Homo sapiens: one gene and its partner. The protein of the gene in region 2 interacts with the protein of the main gene of each other region in a pairwise test. Each region holds a gene or a part of one and is shown on either strand. Other genes may lie near its edges. The genes, in order: DCLRE1B and TDP1.

Region 1 (12,119 bases), on a different chromosome or scaffold from region 2:
TGCTGGGTCAAATAGTAGTTCTCTTTTCCACAGTGGATGAACTAATTTACATTCCCACCAACAGTGTATAAGCGTTCCCTTTTCTCTGCAGCCTCACCAGCGTCTGTTGTTTTTTGACTTTTTTTTTTTTTTGAGACGGAGTCTTGCTCTGTTGTCCAGGCTGGAGTGCAGTGTGGCCCGATCTCAGCTCACTGCAACCTCTGCCTCCCGGATTCAAGCAATTCTCCTGCCTCACCCTCCCGAGTAGCTGGGACTACAGGTGCCCGCCGCCATGCCTGGCTATTTTTTGTATTTTTAGTAGAGACAGGGTTTCACTATTTTGGCCAGGCTGGTCTCGAACTCCTAACCTCGTGATCCTTCTGCCTTGGGCTCCCAAAGTGCTGGGATCACAGGTGTGAGCCACTGCACCTGACCATTTTGACTTCTTAATAATAGCCATTCTGACAGGTGTGAGATGGTACCACATTGTGGTTTTGATTTGCATTTCTCTACACTCACTTCTTCATGTTCCTTAGGCACAAAGCTCATTCCCATCCTATCCCAGGGGCTGATTCTGCCTGAACCCTCTACCTATTCCCTACTCTCGGCAACACAGTGAGACCTCGTCTCTACAAAAACAATTTTTAAATTAGACCTCCCCACCAGGTCTTCACCTGGCTGGCTCATCACTCAGGTCTCATTTTGTTGTCAGTCCCACAGATGCACTTGAGCAAATAAGCCAGGAGAAAAAGTTTAAAATTGAGGCTTCAGATGTAGTACAATTTCTGGTAATGACAGGGTGGTGAGGTAGAGGGAGAATAAGGTCTTTGAAGATGAGGTCAAGGAAGCTGAATGGCCAGGGTATTGAAATCATCCAGAATGATGACAGGGTTGTGAAGGAGGAGAAGGCTGTGAGTCAATGACTCAAGTCTTGATAAGTGAGGATGGGAAGGAGGGGATGGTATAGCTAGATAGTATGCACTTCATGGTAGGAGAGATGGTCACAGGAAGAAATGGCAATAATGGTTAGGAGGCAGCAAGGAGAATAAGGAGAACATCAATGTCACCTTCTTACCTTGAGGTGGGGGGAGAGAAAAAGAGCCTCTATGTGAGAAGCTGGCTGGAAAGCAGTGTGCTCAGAGGAGAGCCAGTCTTCAATTTAGGCAAGGAGGGTGATGGATACTTTCAGAAAAGATGCTGAGGACATAGAGGAATTTGCTGATCACAGAGCAGGAGACTTGAGAGCCTAGTGAAAGAGGGGAGGGAAGGCTGAGAATCCGGCCTTAAAGACTTGAACTCCTGACAGTGACTGCGGTTTAAACAGGGTATGGGGGATTCATTCTGCCACCTTTAGGGTGAGGCTGGGTGACCAGACCTGTTCTTATGGTCCAGGGAAGTTGCCCCAGGGTGTTGCAGCTTGGTATCCTTGATGCTCAAAGGTGTCTTCCTAAGGCTTCATATGTTGTAAGAGTTTGAGTCATAAAGCTTTGTCATAACCACTGATGTACATGGGAGAGGAGGTGAATCAAGGACTTAAAGAGATGAGAAGCAGCTTTGAAAATACCAGAGGCTGAAATCTGTAGTGATACCAGTTGTATGGTTCTTTTCTCCAGTGGCTCTGCCTTCCTTCTGTAGGAGTTGAAAAGGAGAATTCCAGGACTGATCCAAGGTTGTTGGTTTATACAGCTGGTGTGGCAGAAGAATCTAGAACCAGACCAAGCATAGTGTCTGGCCCTTAGTTTACCCACAATGTTTTGAAATGCACAGCCCAGACTGCTCTGCTCTGCACACCTCTTTGGATTCTCTGAGCCTCTGATTAACTACTTATTCTTCTGAGGTGTTTTGGCTTTGCCTTAGGATTTTACAGTTAAATTTACTCAGCACAGCATCTGAAGCTTATCATGATTTCACCCTACTCTTTTTCCATCTGTACAAATGCATCCTTGGATGCTTCAGGTAACTGCCCTTTTGGTTAGACTTGACTCCAGGAACCTCTCCCCCAGGAAGTACCTTCATCAGCCAATCTCTCAGATTTTTCTGGGCCTGAAAGATAGGATTAGCCAATGGCACTATCCAGGGCATGCACTGGACATGTCAGTCACTCCTCTGTAAACAGGATTTAAGGTATGTCAGGGAGTTTGAGGCCAAACATTTTTTTTTTCTGCGATAGGGTCTTGCTGTGTTGCCCATGCCGGAGTGCAGTGGTGTGATCTCGGCTCACTGCAACCTGCCTCCCTGGTTCAAGCAATTCTCCTGCCTTAGCCTCCCAAGTAGCTGGGACGACAGGCACATGCCACCACTCCCGGCTAACTTTTGTATTTTTAGTAGAGATGGGGTTTCACTATATTGGCCATGCTGGTCTTGAACTCCTGACCTCAGGTGATCTGCCCACCTTGGCCTCCCAAAGTGCTGGGATTACAGGCATGAGCCACTGCACCCAGCCAAAGGCAAAAACTTTTTCTTTTCTTTCTTTTTTTTTTTTTTAATGTATTGGATACTCTTATGAAGTGCTTTAGTTGCTTTATTCTATTTCATTCTCCTCCAAACCCTATGAGGTAGGCATTATTATTCCCACTCTACAAAAAGGAACTTTAAGCTGGAAAGCTGAGTAGCTTGCTAGAGATTATATACACAGCTAGTAAGTCACAGGATCACGATTCCAACCCAAGACATCTAACTTGAAAATCCATCTTTTCCACTATGGCCTACTATTGTGTGCACTGGGAGAATCCTGGGAGATAAGGCTGGAAGGATAGGTTGGGCCTTGTATCATGTGGACCTAAAATGTTCTGAATAGTTTGGGTTCTTGAATGTGTATGAGCAGAGAAAATGTTCTTAGTAAGAGGTGATTGAAGGATTTTTATCCCACCATTGAGAGGGAAATTAGAAAGCAGATGGTATGAGCCTGGAAGATGGGTGGGAATTTGAAGAAATTCAGCTGATCAAAGCTTTCCTTTCCTCCTGAAGACATGTTTTCTCCAAACTTTGTATCCCTGACTCCCTAAACAGCAGGCATCTGCTCTTGCTCTGGTGCTTTGTCTCCACAAAGCCTAATTAGTAGGGTGAGTGAGCTTAACCCAATTTCCTTCGCTCCTCAAAAACACACATTTCAATGAGCACATTGAGGATGGAGTAGCACAGGGGACCAATTTTTCATCCCACACTCTCCAAAGTTGTTATAAATTAACCAGAGGAGACAGGACTGGTAAGATAGCCATAATACAATAGTGTAAATAATGTAAGACACAGGCGAACCCAAGGCTAGCCAGAAATTTTGTGTGATTGAAAGATGATTCAATAAGCTATTTATCCAGAAGAACCAAGCCCAGAATCCTGGGAGCTTTTTGTGATCCAGTAGGTCAAGGCTATGTTCAAAGAAGACAAAGTTACCCAGGAATGAGACAGTCAAGATGGAAGGGTAGAGCTAAATGAAGGGTAGGCATTGTGGTCAAGATAAAGACAAGCTTAACCATTCTGAGAATCCCTCACAGGCAGCTGTTAGACTCAGATGTTTATAAGGGAGAGCAGCATCATTCTGTTCAGGTATAGGTGGGATCCCCTGGGGAAGAGAAAAGGGAAAGCACCATGAGTCTAAGACAAAACAGCTTGTGGTGGTTGGTGGTGGCTGAGGAGCATGAGGGGTGGGAGGCAGCTAATACACTGACAGGTGCTCACTGATGGTAACATCGAAAATATATGCACATGGGCTGGGCTGGGCACGGTGGCTCACACCTGTGATCCCTGCACTTTGGGAGGCCTAGGTGGGCGGATCACCTGAGGTCAGGAGTTCGAGACCAGCCTGGCCAACATGGTGAAACCCCATCTCTACTAAAAATACAAAAATTAGCCAGGTGTGGCAGTGCACGCCTGTAATCGCAGCTACTTGGGAGGCTGAGGCAAGAGAATTGAACCCAGGAGGCAGAGGTTGTGGTGAGCCAAGACAGTGCCATTGCATCCAGCCTGGGCAACAGAGTGAGACTCCTCAAAAAAAAAAAAAAAAAAAAAGAAAGGAAGAAAGAAAAAGAAAAGAGAAGAACAAGTGGAGTCACTCATCTGTTTCCTACCACAAAGGGCAATCTGGGTCAAGAGTAAGAGATGGCCTCCCAACACCAGCCAGGCAGATTTTTTTTCTGTAAGGGGACTTAAGCCATTGTCAGTCACCTTGTGGAAAAGTACAAGTTCTCCCACAGATCATCCATTAAATAACTAATGGATCTCTAGGGAACCTCCTTTTTCCCAGCACCTTCAAGCCTAATTGCAATATCTTCATACATCTATAGGATCATCTTTAGATTCTAAAAATAATTTAAATTGGCTATGTAAAGTATATGCAATGCAGCATTTTTATATGAGGGACTATTGGAAAATCAAACAACTGCTAATCTCTAGTATAAGAAGGCAGACATTTTTTCTTTTAGAATAGTATGGAATTTTCCCATTATGAAAACACAAACATGGCTGGGCACACGGGCTCATGCCTGTAATCCCAGCACTTTGGGAGGCCAAGGTAGGGGGGATCACTTGAGGCCAGGAGTTCAACACCAAGACCAGCCTGGGCAACATAGTGAAACTTCATCTCTACAAAAAAAAAAAAAAAAAAAAATTAGTTGGGCATGGTGGTGCATGCCTATAGTCCCAGGTACTCAAGAGGCTCAGGTGGGAGAATCTCTTGAGCCTGGGAGGTCGAGGCTGCAGTGAGTTATGGCTGTGCCACTGCACTCCAGCCTGAGTGACAGAGCTAAAACCTGTCTCCAAAAAAAAGCCAAACAAACAAATGCAAACATGCTACCAACAACTAAATTCCTCAAAGTCTTTTGCTTCCCCTCCCCTATCTGAATGCATATAGAACCCACTTGAAGGAACAGGTGTGACACAGCATGTGCCAAGAGTAGACGGGCTCCCTTGTTGCTAGAAGATAACGCCAATATGGGAACCCCTGTACTGAGAACTACCTTATCTCTCCCAGCCACCTTCGGCCGCCTAGAAGTCAGACAGCTAGAGGATGCTAGAGGAAGTCCAGCTAAATTTGCCCACACAGTTTAGTAGCTATTTATTAAGTTAACACATGAGATGATTTTCCATGTGTTAACATGTACCGTTCTTGTGATCTCATTTAAACTAATGAGTCTTCAAGGTATTTTAATGCTATCCTGTCTGCAGAAAAGATGGTCAGGAAACCTTTCTGGAGGGCAATTCAGCACAATTGGTATCAAGAACTTAAAACTATAATCTAACTCCAGTAATTTACTTTAAGGAAATAAAAATGCAAAATATATGCATAAGGTTGTTCATTGTAATATATGTAATTAGAAAAACAGTACACAAAATGTTGAATATGGGAATGGCTTAGTTAAGGTATACTCACATGATAGGGTATTATACAAATATTAAAAATGGCATTTTTGAACAATATCTAATAAGTGAAATGCTTAAGATATCAAGAAATTAAAATGTAGGCTATAAAATTCTATACAATATTACCTCAACTTTGAAAAACATTTACATATTTAATACATCTACATGCATAGAAAAAAAAACTAAAAGATAGCAAATCAATTAATCTACGAGGAATTAAAATTTTTTGTTTTTTTGACTTTCAAAGTTTCTTATGTTATATACAGATTAATTTCTTTCAAGAACCAGAAGCTAAAGAGAACCAAAATCTGAAAGACCCATCCTGTGGCAGTCACTGAGCTAGGAGAATTTTACCAATTATTCAATCTCCATAGTAATCATGAGAGGTAGGAATCTCAAGTCCATCTTACAGATGAGGAACTAGGCTCCACAATTTAAGTAATTGCTCAGGGTGCCACAGATTCGAGCCTAGGCAGTCCCCATGTTTCCTGCTGCACCAAATGCCTCACCTGCTGTGGCTCCTAATAGGACGTTGGGAGACTTACAACAAAGGTCATTGACAAAACAGAGCTGTGTATAGCTTTCCCAAGAGCAATTGCTTTCTAAACTCTCTATTTCTCTCTCAAAGCAGAAAACTCTTTTAAATCCCCTGGACAAGAAATGGAATCTTCTTCACTGCTAGGGCTCGAGGTTCCATCCCAAAGCAGTTTTGATCCAGACGCCCAGCTCCACAAGTCTGTGCCCTCTCAGAGCCTACTCCCTCATAGCCGTGGTATCAGCTATCCTGCTTACTAGTTTGGCATTTTGTCAGGTTATGAGCAGAAGGACAGGGCAGACTGCACACCCCCACCCCTTCCCGCCAGCTGGCTCCTTGGTCTCTTCCTTGGATACTAAAACAAACAGGCTGTGTGCACTGGCTCCCTACATAATCCAAGGGGTGAGGGGAGCAACAAATATCCCAGCTATGTGAACAATTGGAGGAATATCTGACAACACATTTGATATTTTGTAACTGTTTCAGCCAAATAGGGTCTCCAGGCTGGGGAGTCCCTTCACACCCAAAGCCTTGTTGTTCAGCTGGGCTCTAGGTACTGCCTTGGAGAGAGCTGCCCAACCCCCCAGCTGGCTCTGTTCCACATGGATCCCAGTGATACTGGGATACTGCACATCCTCATGAAGGACATAGAGGTAGAATTTTCACTACTGTTCCAAGACCTCTTCATCGCTTCCTGTTCCCTCCCAGAGGCAGAGACAGGAAAATTATTTGGATGGTCACAGCAAGTCAGTGACGTTCAGGATTGAAGCATGCAGCGCCATAGTTCATAATTTTAAAAATAGAACTCCCTAGGGATTTTGATCTGAGAAGAGGGAGAAGGGGACATGGAGAATGGCTCATGACACCACAAAACAGCAACAGCAATAACCTGGTCCTTTTTGATTCAGACTCTTTACCTCTTTCTGTACCCACATAAGATGATTGCATGTTCACAAAAGTTTGAGAAATACTGGGTTAAACAAGGTTAAACAGATTAAGTTACTGTAGGACTTCAAAGAACTTTTAATTTGCTCACGCATACTCCAAAGATTTTATAAAAAAAGTATTTCTTAAACTTAGTTATAAAAAGAAGGATTCCATAGGCACGAGGACCCCAGTGAACAAGTTTTGGGAAGTGCTGCTCCACGGTGGGCCCATAAGAGTCTTGTAAAGATAGAAAAGTAGGCCCCAAAAACAAACTCTTTCCCACCAGCCATCAGTTACTATCTTCAAAACTGCAGTGTGGGCTCAATGTTGTCATTCTGTACTCTCCTGTCTTCAGCAGGGTTTATGGTATTTTTCCACTTGCTGGTCAAATCTCCTGGAAGAATACCCTGCCTGGAAAAAGTTCACTGGAGTCAGAAGATATTTGAGTGCTAGACCCCTGAATTCAGTAGCTAGAAGAGGGGTGCCCTTGCTGCTGTGGGACAGGGGAGAACCATGGCCCATCCAGGCACTCTGATTCCCTGTGGCTTCTGGACCTCCATCATCATCTCCCATGGGTACCAAGGGGGACCCTAAACCAATTTCCTCCCTGGTTTTTTGAGAAATAAACTCCTCATCTGTAGACCTTAAGTGCACTGAAAATCCCAGTGGGGCCGTCAACATAGTCACCCTCTTTTGAGACTCACAGAAAGGCACTGCCTTGTTCCATTCTTTGCTATAGAGATCTGGGAACAACTGCTTCTTGATCCGCAAAGGATGGTGGGAAGGCTGCTTTTCAAGGTCCGCAGGCCAGGGAGAAAGTTTCTCTTTCTTGGCCTTCTTTGAGTCTCTGTCAGCTTGAGATTGATCAGCACTTTCCTCAGGGGATTCAAACACAACACCTTGGGTTCTCGGCCTCTTTAGCCTCCTTTCTAACAGCCAGAGAAGGCTTGGTTTTCTAGAGGAAGAACTCATGTATTGCTGTACAGAGTCCGGAATCAGGGGCACGGAGATCCTGGGGCTCAGACTGTCCTGAAAGCCTCCACAGGGCCGCCGACTTACAATGGGCACCACCTGGCAAGGCTTCAGTGCTGCGACAAAGGCACGAAGCTCGGAGTAAGAGGAATGGTCAGAGTAAGGGATGACGTGGATATCAGGGTGGGAGCTGTGGATTTTTCGGCTTGTGGGAAGGATAGCAATCGTAGGGTGGGTCTGGTTCCAACGCAGCATGTTGGAATGGCAGATCTCCATATGGTCTACTGCATGGATGCGGCCAGCCTTCTCCTCCACTGTGAACACATCTGCCAGGCCCAGTAGCTGTACCAACTCCAGGCGCCGAGGACTCAATACCACCCAGGTCTGAAACTCCAGGGCCAGCTGCTCCAGCAGTGATTCCTTTCCCAGGCTGTAGAGTCCTAAATAATGTTCAATGTATTGGGGAAAGTAAGAGAAGGAAGAAAATTAAGCTATTGGAAAATCCTAATAAATCAACAAAATGTTTAACAAAAATAGATACAATTCATGGAGAAATCCAGGGAGAATATCAAGGAAGAGGTGGCATTTGAGCTAAGACATATGAAAGGGAATGACACAGAATCCACTCATTCATTTAGTTCAACAAAAGAGAGCATCTAGCAAGTTTCAGGCACCATGAAAACTAATAAAGAAAACTGTCAGTCCTCAAGAAGTACTATCTACAAGGAGACCCAGAAAAACCACAATTAAGAGCAACGTTAAAGATATGTGTACAGGCCGGGCACTGTGGCTCACACCTGTAAGCCTACAATTTTAGGAGGCTGAGGCAGGAGGATTGCTTGAGCCCAGGAGTTCAAGACCAACCTGGGCAACCTGGCAAGACCCTGTCTCTACAAAAATAAACAAATAAGCATGTTGGTGCACGCCTATAGTTCCTGGTACACAGGAAGCTGACGCGGGAGGATCACTTGAGTCCGGGAGGTCCAGGCTGCAGTGAGCTGTGATCATGCCACTACCCTCCAGCCTGGGCAACAGAGTGAGACCCTGTCTCTTAAAAAAAAACAAAAAAAGTATACAGTATTGTATCTAACAGGTGATGGAGTTAGGGAACGTTAGGCTAAATCTTAAAGGATGGGCAAGGTTAACCTGGCAAGGAAAGGGTAGAAAGGGTATAGTGGAAAACATTTTAAGAGGGGTCAGTTTGCTGTTACTAAAGTAAAAAAGGAATTGATAAGAAATGATACCAGAGAGGCAAGCAAGGGCCATATAATAGAGCGTCTTATATGTACCGCTAAGAAGCTTGGACTTCATTGTGTAAGTGAAGGGGAGCCACTGAGTGTGAAGCAGGAAAATGGCTAATTCTAATCATAAGAATAATATGCTCAGAGCAGGGCTTTAAAAAGAAAAATATGGTAATAATATTATTTGACTGCCAGGATGAGAAGAAGCTGGAGTGGAAGTTTCAATTGAAGGGCCCAAATAGTACTTACAGAGAAAGAAATGGAGACATTAATTTGGGAAATGGTTATGGTAACAGATATGGGAGATGTTGTTTAATAGCTGTTCTCAGACTTTTTCTGAAGAAGTTTCAAATCCACAACCAGATTGTGAACGCCATAAAAAGAAGTATATATTATTTATATCCACTTTATTCCTGATTATGGTTCAAAATCTCACTCCTTGGGCACAAATGGAGCGGATTTTTCTTCTCTCTATATATATTCCCACTTCCACCTCCCCACAGGTCCTTCCCTACCAGACTGTGAGCCCTCCAAGTCAGAGACTATATTTTATTCATCTTTATATCCCCACTGCCTATTGGATACTTGGTACTTAGTGGGTAGAGGCTTATTACATATTTGCAAAATTAATTAAGGCTTACTATAGCATCCTCCTAGCCAGCTTTGCTTTTTTGAGAAAATTCTGCATTAAAATATTAAGAATGGTTAGGTCTTTATAAGTAGCTAAGCAATCCTGAGAGTAGAGGATATTTCTCAATCGATTTGGTAGTCACCCTGGAAGTTATATAATTTTTTCAATGCCTTTGTTTAGTCTCATTTTGAAACTCCTTTCAGAGTTGAGACATGTCCTTTTCAAATATTTATAATGGTGGCAAGTCTTTGTCCTTTTGTAGACTCACAAATTTGGAAACAACCAAAAAAGTAATTTAGAACCAAATCTATTACATTTATTTATTTTATAAAACAAAAATGTATTTTCATAAACTATTCCAAATGGCAACTCCAAGAAAGAGTCCTCAACAATGTTTTATACTATTTATAATCAGTACAACAAGCACAAACCTGTTTTTTCAGTATACTTAATTTAAAGCACAACGCTCACTTAAATATCTATGTTCTGATAAATTTCATTCATTCATATTGAATGCTTCTGTGTCAGGCATTAGTGTAGGCATTTGTGATACACCCATAATAAAACAGAGACTGCCATAGTGGAATTCACATTCTAGCAGGGGGAATCAGACAATAAAAAGTCCAATAAATACATAAATTATAGAATATATTGCAAGGTGATGAGTGCATATTGTCCCTCTTCTACTTAAAATCCTTCAATAGCTCTTGGTTGGGTTTAGGATCAAGTCCAAAATGGCTTAACAGCACTTCAGCCCCTCTTGCCTTTTCAGCCTCCTTGCCCACTGTGTGCCTGTCATACTGACTGCTGCTTCTCTGTTCCACAAACACACAAAGTCTCTTCCCATTTCCAGTGATGCTCTTAAGGAGTTTATGCTTGTGTGTGTGTGTGTGTGCACGCGTATGTGCATGGGCCAGAGGAAGTGCATGATAGACAACAAGTAAGCAATAGCATATTTAAAAATATATATAGTATATGAGTGCTATAAAAAAATGAAAAAAATGAATTGGTATGGATGATCAGGAGTTGGGAATGGGGATGGTGGGCAGGTTGCAGTTTTACTTATTTCATTCATTCATTCATTTATTGAGACAGGGTCTTGCTCTGTCATCCAGGCTGGAGTGCAATGGCACTTACATGGCTCACTGCAACCTTGACCTCCTACTGGACCCAGGCAATCCTCCTGTCTCAGTCCCCTGTGTAGCTGGGACCACAGGCACGCACCATCGTGCCCAACTGATTTTTAAATTTTTTGTAGAGACAGGGTCTTGCCATGTTGCCCAAGCTGGTCTCAAACGCCTGGGCTCAAATGACCCTCCCATCTTGGCCTCCCAAAGTGCTGGGATTATAGGCATGAACCACCACACCTAGCCAGGTTGCAATTTTAAATAAGGTGGTCAGTGTAGGAGAAAGTGAGAACTGCACAAAGATCTGAAAGATGTGAGAATCCTTAAAGAATCTAGTTCACTATCTACAGGTGACAGGAAACTGAAAGGAAACAACTCACCAATCTTTATGTTATGTTGTGGGTGTTTTCGAATGAGCTGGACAATCTGGTGGGCAGCTTCTTGTCGGGAAGGAAGAACCAGGGCTGGATTGCAATTGGTGTTGTCTAGGTATAAAGTATGGATCTGTTTCCCCAGTGTCAGGGCTGGCTCCTTTAGCATGGATGGTGTGTATCGAAAATCACCTGGAGGAATATGTACATGGGGGCAGAAGGTCAGAGACAAAAGAATAGAAGACAAGCCTCTCCTACCTCCAACAATAGACAGGCGTTTGCTTACTAGTCTGTGAAAAAACTATTATGTAGCCTGGCACTGAACTAGGCAGTATAGCTGCATGGTTTCTTTGTTGTAATGTCTCCATCCTACTCCTATTTTTCAATTACTCTTCACAAGGTTCGGACCCTTAAAGAGTGGGAAATCGGCCAGGCGCAGTGGCTCACACCTGTAATCCCAGCACTTTGGGGGGCCGAGCCAGGTGGATCACCTGAGGTCAGGAGTTCGAGACCAGCCTGGCCAACATGGTGAAACCCCGTCTCTACTAATAGTAAATACGAAAATTAGCTGGGCGTGGTGGCAGGCGCCTGTCATCCCAGCTACTTGGGAGGCTGAGGCAAGAGAATCACTTGAACCCAGAAGGCGGAGGTTGCAGTGAGCCACAATCACGCCACTGCACTCCAGCCTGGGTGACAAGAGTGAAACTCCGTCTCAAAAAGAAGAAGGAAAAAAAAACAGTGGGAAATCAGTTGAGATGGGGTCACTATGCTCATATGTGATGAAGTTAGAAGGCCTCCAGCGCCTCCAGACTTCTATTGAGTTAAGGCTGCTCAAGAAAAGTCTGCCAGGTGTGGTGGCTTGTGCCAATAATCCTAGCTACTGTGGAGGCTGAAGCGGGAGGATTGCTTGAGGTCAGGAGTTTGAGACCAGCCTCGGCAACACTGCGAGGCCCCAGTCTATACATTAAAAAAAAAAAAAAA
Region 2 (12,858 bases):
CAAGAGCCCTCTCACTTCCTTTGTCTTCAACCCATTCTCCGCAGAGTTGGAGCACACAGCTGTATTAAAAAGGCAAATCGAAGGCCGGGCGCGGTGACTCACGCCTGTCATCCTAGCACTTTGGGAGGCCGAGGCGGCTGAATCACTTGAGGTTAGGAGTTTGAGATCAGCCCGGGCAACATGGTGAAACCCCGTCTCTACAAAAATAGAAAAATTAGCCGAGCGTGATGGTGGATGCCTGTAATCCTAGCTCCTCGGGAGGCTAAGGTAGGAGAATTGCTTGAACCTGGGAGGCAGAGAGGTTGGAGTGAGCCGAGATTGCGCCATTGCGCTCCAGCCTGAGCGGCAGAGCGAGACTCTGTCTCAAAAAAATAAATGTAAATCGGACTCCCCTTCTTAAAGCCCTCAGTGGGGTCCCATTGATCATTGCATAAAATCCAATTTCTTTAACAAGTCTTCTCCCCTCACCCGCTTCGGACCACTGCCTGCCTTGCCTAAGTCCTTTCTTATGACCTCTTTCCCACCTCTGCCGGCTGGGTTCCCTCTACTTGGGAATGCTCTTCACCCCATCATTTAGACAGCAGGTTCCTTTTGGCCCTCTGGGTCTCATTTATATGTTACTTTTTAAGTATATTCCAAAGGTCACCCCTATTTTTCTGTCTCATACTTATAAAATGTAATGAATGTCTAACTCATCTTGGCTATTAAAATTTTTATGTGTGGGTCTGTCTCTTCTGCCCTGAAATTAGCTCTGCTAGGGTAGAAACTATATTGTTAACGCCTCATTCCCAGTTTTTGGTACATAATAGCTGCCCAGTAAGTTATTGAATGAATGAACTCCAGGGGGTAAGCATGATATCCATTTCACAGACTAAAAAACTGAGGCTCAGCAGTTAACTAACCTGCCCAAGTGCACATTTACTCCCTAGTCATGGCCGGGTTTGAGACAAGGGACCATGTTTGCCTATTACTGGCCACACAGGAACTCAATTGAGGAGCATGGCCTCCAGGCCCAGCTGATGGTCTTTAAGCTCAATGAGAAGGAGCAGCTGGAGGTGAAAGAGAAATGCCCCAGCTGGGTCTCATATAGTGGGGAGTGAGGAAACACTAGTAGCTCTAAATGGAGTACCCTTTTATATCCACAACATGTTTTAAAGTCCTTAATAAAAGTGCTAACAGTGTCCTGAGCTAGCATTTGGTGGGAAGATTTCTTAGATTTTTCATGTTAGTGCAGTGTTTGCCAAATTTCACTCACACTCACCTGCCTTCTCCCCAGTTTGCTTTATTCTCTTAACACATGACACAGGATTTATTTCAGGGCCGCTTTGCCAGCTGGAGACCTCCAGCCCTGGGCTGGCTGCAGGAGGTGCCCTGCCCACTCAGCCTGGCAGAATGCATTTGTCTTTCATCCCCGCCCAGATCCCGTGGCCACTATGACTGCATGCTCAGCCCGCGAGGAGTCGGTTTGTGAGTGAGTGAGCAAGCCTGGAGGCCCGGCTGGCTGTTCCAAGTGCTGGCCCAGTCACAGGCTCCATGTAGGGCTTGTGGATGGCCTGGGTGTATGGCAAGTGACTCTGGTAGCAGATTCTGGTGTCCAGACGAGGGGGATGCAGTAGTGCCCAAACACTTGGAGACACCAGGCAAATAGAGATGTATTAACAGCTCTTTTAGTCCCACCATCTGCAGCCCAATGAATGGGGGTGTGTGGCAGCCAGCAGCTCCCTCTCCCATTGCTTCACTAGCGGAACGGAGTGCTACAGGGTTATAGCTCTATTTGCACTCGCTGTTTAGCTGGTCCGAATTTCTTGTCCTGCGTCCAAGAATAATGAGGTTAGGCTGACAACCGAAGGGGAAAAGGGCGGAGGTGAGTTTTACTCAGTGATGAGACAGTTCTCAGCAGAGACGGGACCCCAAGTGGATGGCCCCTGCCCTGACCCCAAGGTGGGCAGTTCGCTGGTGTGACTGAGTCTGGGGCTTTTATGGGCTCAGAATGAGGGAGTGTGTGCTCCATGGTTTGTGAGTATGCAAAAAAGGCTAAAACAAAGGCACCACTCAAAGGTGGGCATGACAATGTAAAAAACCAATTAGGGAAGGGTAGATATATGTAAAGTAGGTGAAGGGTGGGGATTGATCAGAGGAAAGTGTGCCAAGTGGGAAGAGGGGTTATCAATCCGGTCCGTGGATTTACCCAACACTTGTAGCTTGGCTTTCAGGCTTTAAACTGTCTTTGGTTTGCAGGTGGGGTTTCACTGGGGCCCTGCCCCTATCTGCCTAGGGATTTGTCTGCCTCCTGCCGCTATCACATAGACTATCATATACTTAATATTTTTGTTTGAATCCAATCATTCTTTTACATAAAATAAACTTTATTTTGCTATTTCAAATATAACGTAGCCATAAGATACCTTCTGTTGATGGTAAACAAAATTGTTGGTGCCTGCAGAAGAGCCCAAACCCTGCTATTTGTTCAAAATCAAGATTAAAAGCATTTCTACAACACTACAACTTTCTTCTTGATTTAAACAGGGAGTTTGGATTGGAATGGAAAGGGAAGTACTTTCATAATGTCAGGTCCCAATCACTTCCACTTCAGGAAACACTGTGCCGTTCTGATTGAGTGCCAGGATTCAGAATCAACACAGCTATATTGTATTCTGATTCTTTCAGTACCACTTACAAAAAGTGTGACTTCAGATTTATGCTGTACCAAGCACTGCCCAGGCAGGGAAGACAGATGATAAACAATTGAAGGAAAGCTCTCAGGTTCTACATTTCTTAAAACTGTATGACTTGATTACAAAGCACTCTGAAATGCTGGGCACCAGAGCCTCTATGAGGGAAGTAAATTCTGTTACTGGTGACCAGTTATCCAAAGTAAAAGTTTGATATTGGTGTTTACTAGCAGTTCTTTTCCAACTGGGCGGGAGCCTTGATGTCATAAAGAGGTTGGTAAGCTGCTACATTTAACAACAAGACACAATTTTATTAGTCTGTTGCACTAAATTGTAACCCAATAAATTGTATTAGGTTGTAATAAGCAACTCAGGCATATTTTTGAGTTTCAGCAGGTCCAAAACTTTATAGAGCAGAACCCCAAAAAAAGGCTTTGTTCTCTAGAAAATGTCTTTTTTAAAGCTTTGTTTTATTTTTTATCCTCTTGTCCTACTTTGTTGGAGGGAATTCCACTTCCATATGGTTTTAGAAAATGGAGATAATGATAAAACTTAAAAACCTTTGAAATTCTCTAAATAATTCACAGAGTTGCTAAGGATTTTACCTTAGCAACTCTTAGTACATAATAATGTACTTAGCACAGAATTCTCAGTGTTTGGAAATTCCATTTTATTTATATAATGCAGGCAACCATATTTGTTATGGTAGCCTCTTAAGATTCTGCAACTGCTTCTGAGAGTGGAAGCTGAATCCTTTCTCACCAAAAACTAAGACCTGCTACTTACTTTAGAATGGGCAAGGTATCTATAGAGAACAGCCTGAGGACTGTAATGGAAGATTCTATTACTCACCGCCTTGGTTTAGAACTGTTGTAGAATTCAAAGGAACCTAGAGCTGACATTCAGAGAGTGGTTTTTCCTAAGGTGGTTCTTTTGTTCCTAGATAACTTTAAAGTCACGAAACTGTAGCCACTGAAATAGTTTCTTCAAAGTGTATTGTAACAGCTTAAATACCCCTATCCAGCAACTTCTAGACTCTAGAACACTAGAGGAACCTAAGGTTTTGTGGGTTTTTTTTTCAAACCGGAAGGATTAAAAACATTTAAAAAACCACCTCTGAGCTGCTTAAGTAGGTGTTGAGTAGTAAATCAATCTGAATCTCTTTCATGGAGGAAACTGGGCACTCAGACCCCTTTAACCATGACAATACAGTTCTACAAACCCAGTTATCTAGTTTCTTAACCCTTAGCAGATTAGAAACAATTTAGGGAAAATATACCTATGCTATGAGTTTTAACAACCCCTTGAAGTGGGCTGGACAGAGTGTAGAAATAAATAGAAACTTTTAGAAAGCAGATATGAGGGCTCAAAAGAGCCAGACAGTCTAGGGTCACTATTACAGGAGCAAGTGGCCCCAGCCCTCTCTACAGTCAATAAGGCTTTGGCTGTGAGATAGTGTGTTCATGCTGGGTAGGGTAATAATGACCCAGAGCCATGAAGAATGGGCCAGATTATTGTCTTGATGCATTCTTGCATAAAAGTTCCTTGAAATGTGTAATTTACAGAAGGCTTGCTTAACTTGACTGGTAGTTAATTGAAAAAGGTGAAGAGAGAAATTGTGAAAAGGGATAGATACCTTTAAAGTATTTCCAACCCTCCCCTGCCCCGCCCTGCTGTGTTCACTGAAAAAATCATGAGATCTATACATTTAGAAAGGAGAGCTTAGTTCTTATAAAGGGCTACAGCCTGCAGTGTGGCCTGACAGGCTGGGAAGCACAGCCTCAGGCAGAGACCTTTAATGGCATCCCAGGGAGGAGAGGGTAGAACAGAGATTTATACTGAATGGGTTGGCCAAGTATAGTATTCAACAGGTGTGGGAGGAGCTATGAATATTCACCAAGGGGGGACACGTGTGCATGTGTAATGAGCAAACGTGTGTTTTGTGCATCTCGTGTTCACTTTGGGATGGAGACTTAACATTTGAATGAATTACAATTAGGCCCTCTGTCAAAAGGTGAAGGAGAGACATGAAGGCACTCAGTGCTCAGCCTCTGAGGACTGGTCAGAACCAGTCTGTGGTTTCTTTTCAGGAGAAAGTTACTCCATTGTCCAATGACAGCTGCAGTCATGGCCTGTGGAACCAGAGGGGTCAGTTAGTCAAGCATCTGGCAGTAGGTGAGCTGCAATTGTTTAGATATTCCTTATCTCTAGGCCAGTGCTTATTTAGCTGCTGAAGAAAAAAGAACCTTGTGGAAGGTAGAACATAGTTTAAAGGTAGCAGTGTGTGATTTAACCCTTGCTTGGCATGGCCTTAGGTCTTGTTTATGATTTAGTGTCATATTGTCACAGAATCTATTCTGCCAGTCTTACGATCTCTGGTCAGTTGTGTTTAAACCGCAGAAGGGAGGGGATATAACAGGCATGTCTGAGCTCCCATCTCATCATGGCCCGGAACTCAGTTTTTAAGGTTTCTCTGGGGTCCCCTTAGCCAAGATTTTTATTTTTAGTTCTCATCTAGAGACATATGCATATGTATTGATTTGCAAATCTTTTGATGTAGAATAATGTTGAATTCTCTTTTTTGGGGAATGTAGGTTTTGTGAAGGGAGTGTCACCATCTTGGTTTACTCCACTCAATGCATCTTTTCCAGCCTCATTAAAACAGCAGAAACTCGAAGATACTGTTGATCTGAGCACAGACTACTGAGTTTTGTAATTTTCCCCTGGGTCTTGTGCTAAAATGTTAAAAGTATCACATTGAGGAACTGTTCTTTAGCTGTCTGGAAAGTCTACTTAGATAGTCCTTTACCACTGAATTGACAAGATTTGGTAGGTAACAGCAAAAGTGACTGTTTCGTGTACTTTCCTGTTCTCAGAACAAGAAAGTAGAATTTGACTGTGGGGCTTAAAAAATAAAAGTGTGTTGCTTCAGTACAAGTTATTTCTGTGTAGGTGTTAGTAGATTTATGATGTAGCCAATAGGATAATTATATCTTGATATAATTATATCCAACTAATTATAATTAGTTGGGTCCTCATGGAAGTAGTGTAAATAATGTACATACCTAAGTGGTCATTTGGCTTTCCTCTTGAAGACTTTGTTAAGCTTTATGGTAAATGGGTTGTCTTTTGGGAAGTAAGACATACATAATCACTGAAGTCCTGTGGGTGCCTGTACTTGGGTGAAGGCTAGGTTTGTAAATTCCAATTTGACCTTAAGCATTTGAACATAGATTAAATGGACCTTAATCCCAAACGCTTATTGGAAGTTTCGGGGTCAAGAATGAATGTTTGTTTTATTTTGGCATTTGTCTTGATGCATTCTTCAACCCCCTTTCCTAGGACATCTAAGAACAAAGTTTAGATTGAAAGCCAAGGCCAGGCATGGTGGCTTATACTTGTAATCCCAGCACTTTGGAAGGCCAAGGTGGGTGGATCTCTTGAGTCCAGGAGTTCAAGGCCAGCCTGGGCAACAATAATGAAACCCTGTCTCTACCAAAAAAAAAGAAAAAAAAAATTAGCCAGACGTGATGGCGTGCACCTGTAGTTCCAGCTATTCGAGAGGATGAGGCAGGAGGATTGCTTGAGCCCAGGAGGCAGATGTTGCAGTCAGCTGAGATTGAACCACTGCACCACTCCAGCTGGGTGACAGAGCGAGACCCTGTTTCAAAAAAAAAAAGGAAGAAAAAAGAAAGGTGACCAGGACTTTTGCTTGTGATTTGGCAGAATCTGATAGTGGATTCTGGTAATGTGCTTATAAACACCCAAAAAGCAGCTGATGTTAGGTGGTTCAGCCTCTGGAAGGTGTCAGCTCATCTGACAGGGAAGTTGAGAGCAATAAAGTTATTTTGCCAATGCCCTGATGAATGGGAAATGCTGATGTTTCCACTTTTCATTTCCAGGAGTATAATGTCTCAGGAAGGCGATTATGGGAGGTGGACCATATCTAGTAGTGATGAAAGTGAGGAAGAAAAGCCAAAACCAGACAAGCCATCTACCTCTTCTCTTCTCTGTGCCAGGCAAGGAGCAGCAAATGAGCCCAGGTACACCTGTTCCGAGGCCCAGAAAGCTGCACACAAGAGGAAAATATCACCTGTGAAATTCAGCAATACAGATTCAGTTTTACCTCCCAAAAGGCAGAAAAGCGGTTCCCAGGAGGACCTCGGCTGGTGTCTGTCCAGCAGTGATGATGAGCTGCAACCAGAAATGCCGCAGAAGCAGGCTGAGAAAGTGGTGATCAAAAAGGAGAAAGACATCTCTGCTCCCAATGACGGCACTGCCCAAAGAACTGAAAATCATGGCGCTCCCGCCTGCCACAGGCTCAAAGAGGAGGAAGACGAGTATGAGACATCAGGGGAGGGCCAGGACATTTGGGACATGCTGGATAAAGGGAACCCCTTCCAGTTTTACCTCACTAGAGTCTCTGGAGTTAAGCCAAAGTATAACTCTGGAGCCCTCCACATCAAGGGTAAGAGGATGCTGGGTGTCAAGGAGCTGTTGAATTGCCCTTGAGAGTCTCTCCTCCGTGAAACAAGGAGGGCAGCCTAGAATAGTTTCTGAGAACTCTTCTTTGTGTTCTTAACTACTTTCAGGAAAAAAATTCTTGACAGGCAAGTGCATTAGTATAACAGCAGACTGTTTACTTAACTCAGGCAGAGCGTGTGTTCTCAAAACCCTGTAGCTCAACCCCTTATATCACTTAGCACGATGTTTAGCATTATTTAACTTTTTAAGATGAAGCTTGATGAGTAACAGTTTATCAACAAGGTAGCAAATACTTGACAACAGTAGTAGTTCTCCATGGGCCCTGGACCAGCAGCCTCAGCATCACCTGCAACTTGTTAAAATGCAAATTCTCGGGCCCCATTCCCGATTCATTAAATTGGACTCTGAGGGTGAGATCCTGCAGTCTGTGTTTTCACGAGCCCTTGAGGGGATTCTACTGCCCAGTCAAGTTTGAGAACCACTGCTTAAAAGCCTGGTTTTAGTTCCTGGTGAAGAAGAAGAAGAAAAAACAAAATAGTGCCTGAGTGCAAATAGATGTTTCAGTTATGGATCAAAAGATGGCCTTAGTTTGCTCTCCTTATTCCTCAGGGAGCACCTGCAGGAGGAAGAGCAGGAGCTCTAGAATCTGCTTTCTGGCCTCACCACTCATTTGCTGTATGGATTGTTAACACAGGACCTAACATTCTCTGAATTTTAGTTTGCTCATCTTTAAACTGGAAATGCAGAAAAATGGGAGCAAATATATGAAGTAACCAGTGTAATATATTCACATGGCAGATACAATAAACATTATTACCCTTATTTCAGATTTTTTTCCTGTCCCATATTTAAGAATAGTAATGTTCACTGTCAGCAGTGTTGTTCTTTTTTTATATATCCAGTATATAATTGTATATTGTGTGTGATGTATACATGTTGGAGTATTTCATACTGTAGAGTGTTCTACAGGTTGTTTTCTTTTTGAGAATCTCTTATCTTGGTACTTTGTCAAGTTTTTTGTTTGTTTGAGACAGACTGACAAATATTTAGAGAATTTTGCCAAGTTTTGCTCTATATAATAAAATAACCGGCAATTAGCACCAAGGTATTGTGGTAACATGATAGGAGCTCTTACATATATTTTCTCCTTTAATCCTCAGGACAGTCTTATGAGTAGATGTTACAATCGTATTCCTTGGATAAATGATGCATCTGCACTTTAGAAAAGTGCCCAAGGTCGTAGAGCTGGTAATGACATTCTGGCATCAGAATCCATGCTGTTTGCTATAGCACTCTACCATGTGCCATAATTGTAGATGGCTTAGAAGATCTCATGGAGGAAGGGGGACTTCAAAAGGCCTTTGAAAGATGGGTAAAATTTAGAAGGGAAGAAATACATGCTGGTGGGGGCAAATGGAAGAATATTTGCAGTTTATCTCTGCAACTCTCCCAATAAGGTAGAACCTTCCTTAACAATTTTTTTGTTGTTGTTCTCTGAAAATCGTTCTACCCCAGCATCTAGCTCAATGTCCAGAAGATAGGAAGCACTCAGGAAATATTTGCCAAATGAATGAGCCAGTCTTAATTCTCAGAGGCAGTTTAGTGGGTATGAGCGAAGGTGCTGGAGCCAGACAGCCTAGGTTCAAACCCCGACTGTACCCCTTTCTAGCTGTGTGTCTGTGGGCAGCCTCCTAAGAAGGCTCCTCCGATATAAAATAGAAATAACAGACCCCACCTAGAAAATGGATATGAGGAGTAAGTAATGGATGGGAAGTGCCAAGAGTGCTGCCTGGCATCTAACAGGTCTCCACAGATGTGGCTGTTGTAATGGAAGGTCACGATGATGGTGTACTTGCTCTCGTGGTATGGTTTGAGAAGTGAGCTTTCAACTTACCTAACATAAAGCTTGAATGGGTACAAAGTGAGACTTCCCTAGAGATGACCAGGAACACCAGGAATGTGAGTTGATAATTGTGAGTGCCTCTGTCCTTTCATTCACAGGCCACAGGTGCTTTCCAGTCTTTCTGGAAAGTCTTTCTAAACTGTCCACATTTATAAAATCTTTCTAGAAAGTTTTTCTAGTCTTGAGTTGGGAGATTTCCTGGAGAGGGACTTGAATGGGTACTTGGAGGAGGTAGAAGTTCAGAGATCTGAAAAGAATATGTATCATTATTGTCCATATTGAGTTTCTAAACTTGATCAATCATTCAGTACTGAAGTTGTAGATTTTGGTTTTGCATTGTTTTATAAAAGAATGTATGATAAATATTAAATACCATAGGGAAATTTTTTTTGAATTTTATGAAACATTAAAGTCTGACTTTGTAGTAACTGTTTAGCTTACTGTGTTCTGAGTCAGATCTTGATTGTCAGTGACTGTTGAATGAGTTAGTAGTGATTATTATGACTAGAGGATTTTTGTGAGTGTGAATTTGATATATGTTTTGTCTTCTCAGATATTTTATCTCCTTTATTTGGGACGCTTGTTTCTTCAGCTCAGGTGAGTATACCTTTAAGCTGTTTTTTCTTTGGGTGAAAGTAGACAGGTAATTAAACAACTCCATAAGAAAATATGAGAGGCATAGTTTGGGGATCTCAGTCCTGTTCAAAGACTGAGATGGCACATACCTGGAGGCTGGCTCAAGTGCCACAGTAATGAGATCCATGGCCATCAACATAGAATGGGGATGTCACTATCAGGAGAGCATTTGACTCAAGTCAGCCTCCGCTGGCCAAGAAGTCACTTTGGACATTCCAGCTTGAAAGACTAGAATGGGACACTTCTTTTGGGGATACTGATTAACTCATGGGACTGAGTTAACTCTGGTGCATAGAGTGGTGAGGTATGGATAGAGTGGTGAAGGCCAAGTCAAGTTTGATTTAATTTAGAAAAATGTGAATTTTCATGTTCAGTGGCTCCTTCCTGACTGAGCTAGTCCCTTTGTCTTGATAAATCATGTAATGGTCCAGACCCACAAGTAAGTGGTCCAAAGGGCCCTGTCCCTGAAGAAAGGCAGGCTTCCTTTATGTTTGGTTTGGCATTGAAAGTCCTGGTTTCCATTTGGAAGGTGGGGAGCATTTGCAAATGCCCTGTTAGCTCGACTGAGTTACTAAGTCCAGGATTACCCAGGTATGGGGAGGAGCCTCCACGGGTAAGACCAGTACAGAACTTGCATTTAAGATGTAATTGTTAGAAGCCTAGTGAATGTCTGGTCCCAGGTGGCTGTGTACAAAGCTAGCTAATAAGTTAGCCTGAAAGGAAATGTTCTTTTCTGAAAGTCCTGGGATCTTTGTCTCCAGTATCTGTCTTTTTATAATCACCTAGGGGAAAAGGGATAAATTTATAAATCCTTTTATTTAAATTAATCTCAGGGCCATTAGACATAATGTAATAACACCCTGCGGACAAGTACAGATGCTGCCAAAACATGCAGAGATAATTTCCTGGGAACCTGTTATCTCATGTACTTGGCTCCATTTAGGTTCTTTTAACCATGCATTTAAGATAAATTATAGGTTTGTTAGTATTGCAGCATAACCCTCCAGGTTTATAAATAATACATGTAGTGTATCACTATTTTAGAGTTTCCTTAAATGTAATAACTAAACAATTCTCCTTATGAACTGTTTGGCAGAATTACCTATGGCTTAGTTACTCTTCTTTTCTCCCATCTAGTTTAACTACTGCTTTGACGTGGACTGGCTCGTAAAACAGTATCCACCAGAGTTCAGGTGAGTTCCTCAGGGTGACAGACAACACTATAAACTGTAAAGGGGCTTTGACACCTAAGATTTGTATTTCTCAGGTGAAAGCCACTCATCTTTTGAGTTTTTCTTTTGAAACTGTTGAAATCACACAGACATTAAGTTATATCCGGAAAACAGCATTCTTTGATCTATTTAATCCTACACATTCTTTTTACGGATTTTAGCATTTTCCTCTGTGCTCTTTCAGGAAGTAGATAAGGACAGGCTTTAACTCAAATAACAGAATTTCATGTCCAGTCTTAATATGAAGGAAAATACCATCTCCACATACCTTCTAGATCTGTGAATGTGCCAACATGCCGCCAACGTGCCATGCTTTCCGTAGCACATCAATTCTGTTCTGTTTTGAGGATCCCTTTGTGTTTCTGAGATGAGGAAAGGAGGCTTATCTGTGGCCTTCCCTTATCTAGGCTCTGGAGGTGATGGATTTTTAGGCCTTCTGCCTGCACTTCATCAGCCTCATGTTAGGCAATACAGACCAAATAGGGCATCACACAGGTGCCACCCTTCCCTATTTCTAACACATTTACGGGGCAGATTCCCATAACAGCAAGTAGGATGGAGGAAAACACACAAGAAATAATGATTGTCAGGGTCCTCAAAATTCTTGGTACATTTAGGGCATCAGATTGTGGAAACCTTTGACATTAACAGTAGATAAAATGCTGTTAAAATTTTTCAAGCAGCTTTGGCACTTGGGGCTTTTTTTTTTTTTTTTGACCTGTAACACACAGAATTAGTTTTAGCTGCATGTAAAAGAATATTCAAAATAACAATGGCTTAAATAAGACAAATTGTTTCCAGCGTGACACATTCAGATGGTAAACATTTATGGTCTAGATGGGGGCACCAGGGTTCTCAGAGACTTATCCACCTACCCTTTCTGTTCCACCATCCTTGTATGTGACTTCAGTTTTCAGAGTCACCTCGTGGCCCAGTATGGCAGCTAGAGCTCCAGCTTACTCATCTATTCCAGGTAGCAGGAAGGGGAAAGGAGGAAAAGGACAAAAAGGCCCACATTCTAGCTATGCCCATCTAAGCAGCCTTCCTGGAAGTCCCACACAACACCTGCATCTATTTCATTGAGCAGAGCTCAGCTGCATGCTAACCAGCTGTAAAAGAGGCTAGAAATGTCTTTTAGCTTAGCACACCTTTTCCTGAATTAGCCTTTTGTTAGGGAAGGAGGAGAGAATGGCTGTCTGGAGGCAACAAGCAGTTTCTGCCTTGGCTCCTCCTCGCAGTAGTATCCTTGGGTGTCACATTGGCATTTTCTGTTCTTCCTCCCTTTTCTTAAAGACCTTGAAATCAAACTGTCACCCCATTAGAGTGTTGGCAAAGTGCAGACTGCAGTTCCTTTGTATCTGTTATGAGTTAAATTATCTCACCCCCAAAAAAGATCTGTTGGAATCCTAAGCCTCAGTACCTCAGAATGTGATCTTATTTGGAGATAGAGCCCTTACAAAGGTAATCAAGATAAAATGAAGGCATTAGGATGGACATTAATCCAGTATGACTAGTGTCCTTATAAAAAGAGAAATTTGGGTGCAGAGACAGAGATAAGACCATGTAAAGACACAGAACGCCATTTACAAGCCAAGCTCCTAGAAGCTGGGAGAGAGGCTTGGAACAGATGTGCCTCACAGCCTCAGGAACCAATCCTGCCAGCACCTTGATCTTGGACTTCTCGCCTCCAGACCTGTGAGACAATATATTGCTGTTGTCTAAGCCTCCCAGTTTGTGGTGCTTTGTTTTGGAGGCCCTGGCACACTAATACAGTATCCACTGGACTCTCAGTAACTAAAGGGACGAAAGTGTCCTCCTTCTCCCTGCATCCCCTTATTGCCAAATGCATCTTGGGAAGGCTATTACGAGCCTTAGAAGGATGAGGAGTGACCTAAATGGTAAGTTTAAGTAACATCCAGAATTTGTATGT

The links.
Region 1: the proteins of TDP1 (region 2) and DCLRE1B interact in binary tests that used the Homo sapiens proteins (3 or more experiments, as listed by UniProt).

The regions. Positions count from the first base shown.
Region 1 is NC_000001.11:113,907,220-113,919,338, reverse strand, and holds the end of DCLRE1B (5' exonuclease Apollo), read right to left. Parts: intron 11,331-12,119; coding exon 11,148-11,330; intron 8,209-11,147; coding exon 7,148-8,208; 3' UTR 5,253-7,147; downstream 1-5,252.
Region 2 is NC_000014.9:89,956,534-89,969,391, forward strand, and holds part of TDP1 (tyrosyl-DNA phosphodiesterase 1), read left to right. Parts: exon of another isoform or gene 1-44; 5' UTR 45-267; exon of another isoform or gene 268-1,864; intron 1,865-3,245; exon of another isoform or gene 3,246-3,473; intron 3,474-6,574; 5' UTR 6,575-6,581; coding exon 6,582-7,140; intron 7,141-9,613; coding exon 9,614-9,657; intron 9,658-10,833; coding exon 10,834-10,889; intron 10,890-12,858. UniProt on the Homo sapiens protein: DNA repair enzyme that can remove a variety of covalent adducts from DNA through hydrolysis of a 3'-phosphodiester bond, giving rise to DNA with a free 3' phosphate.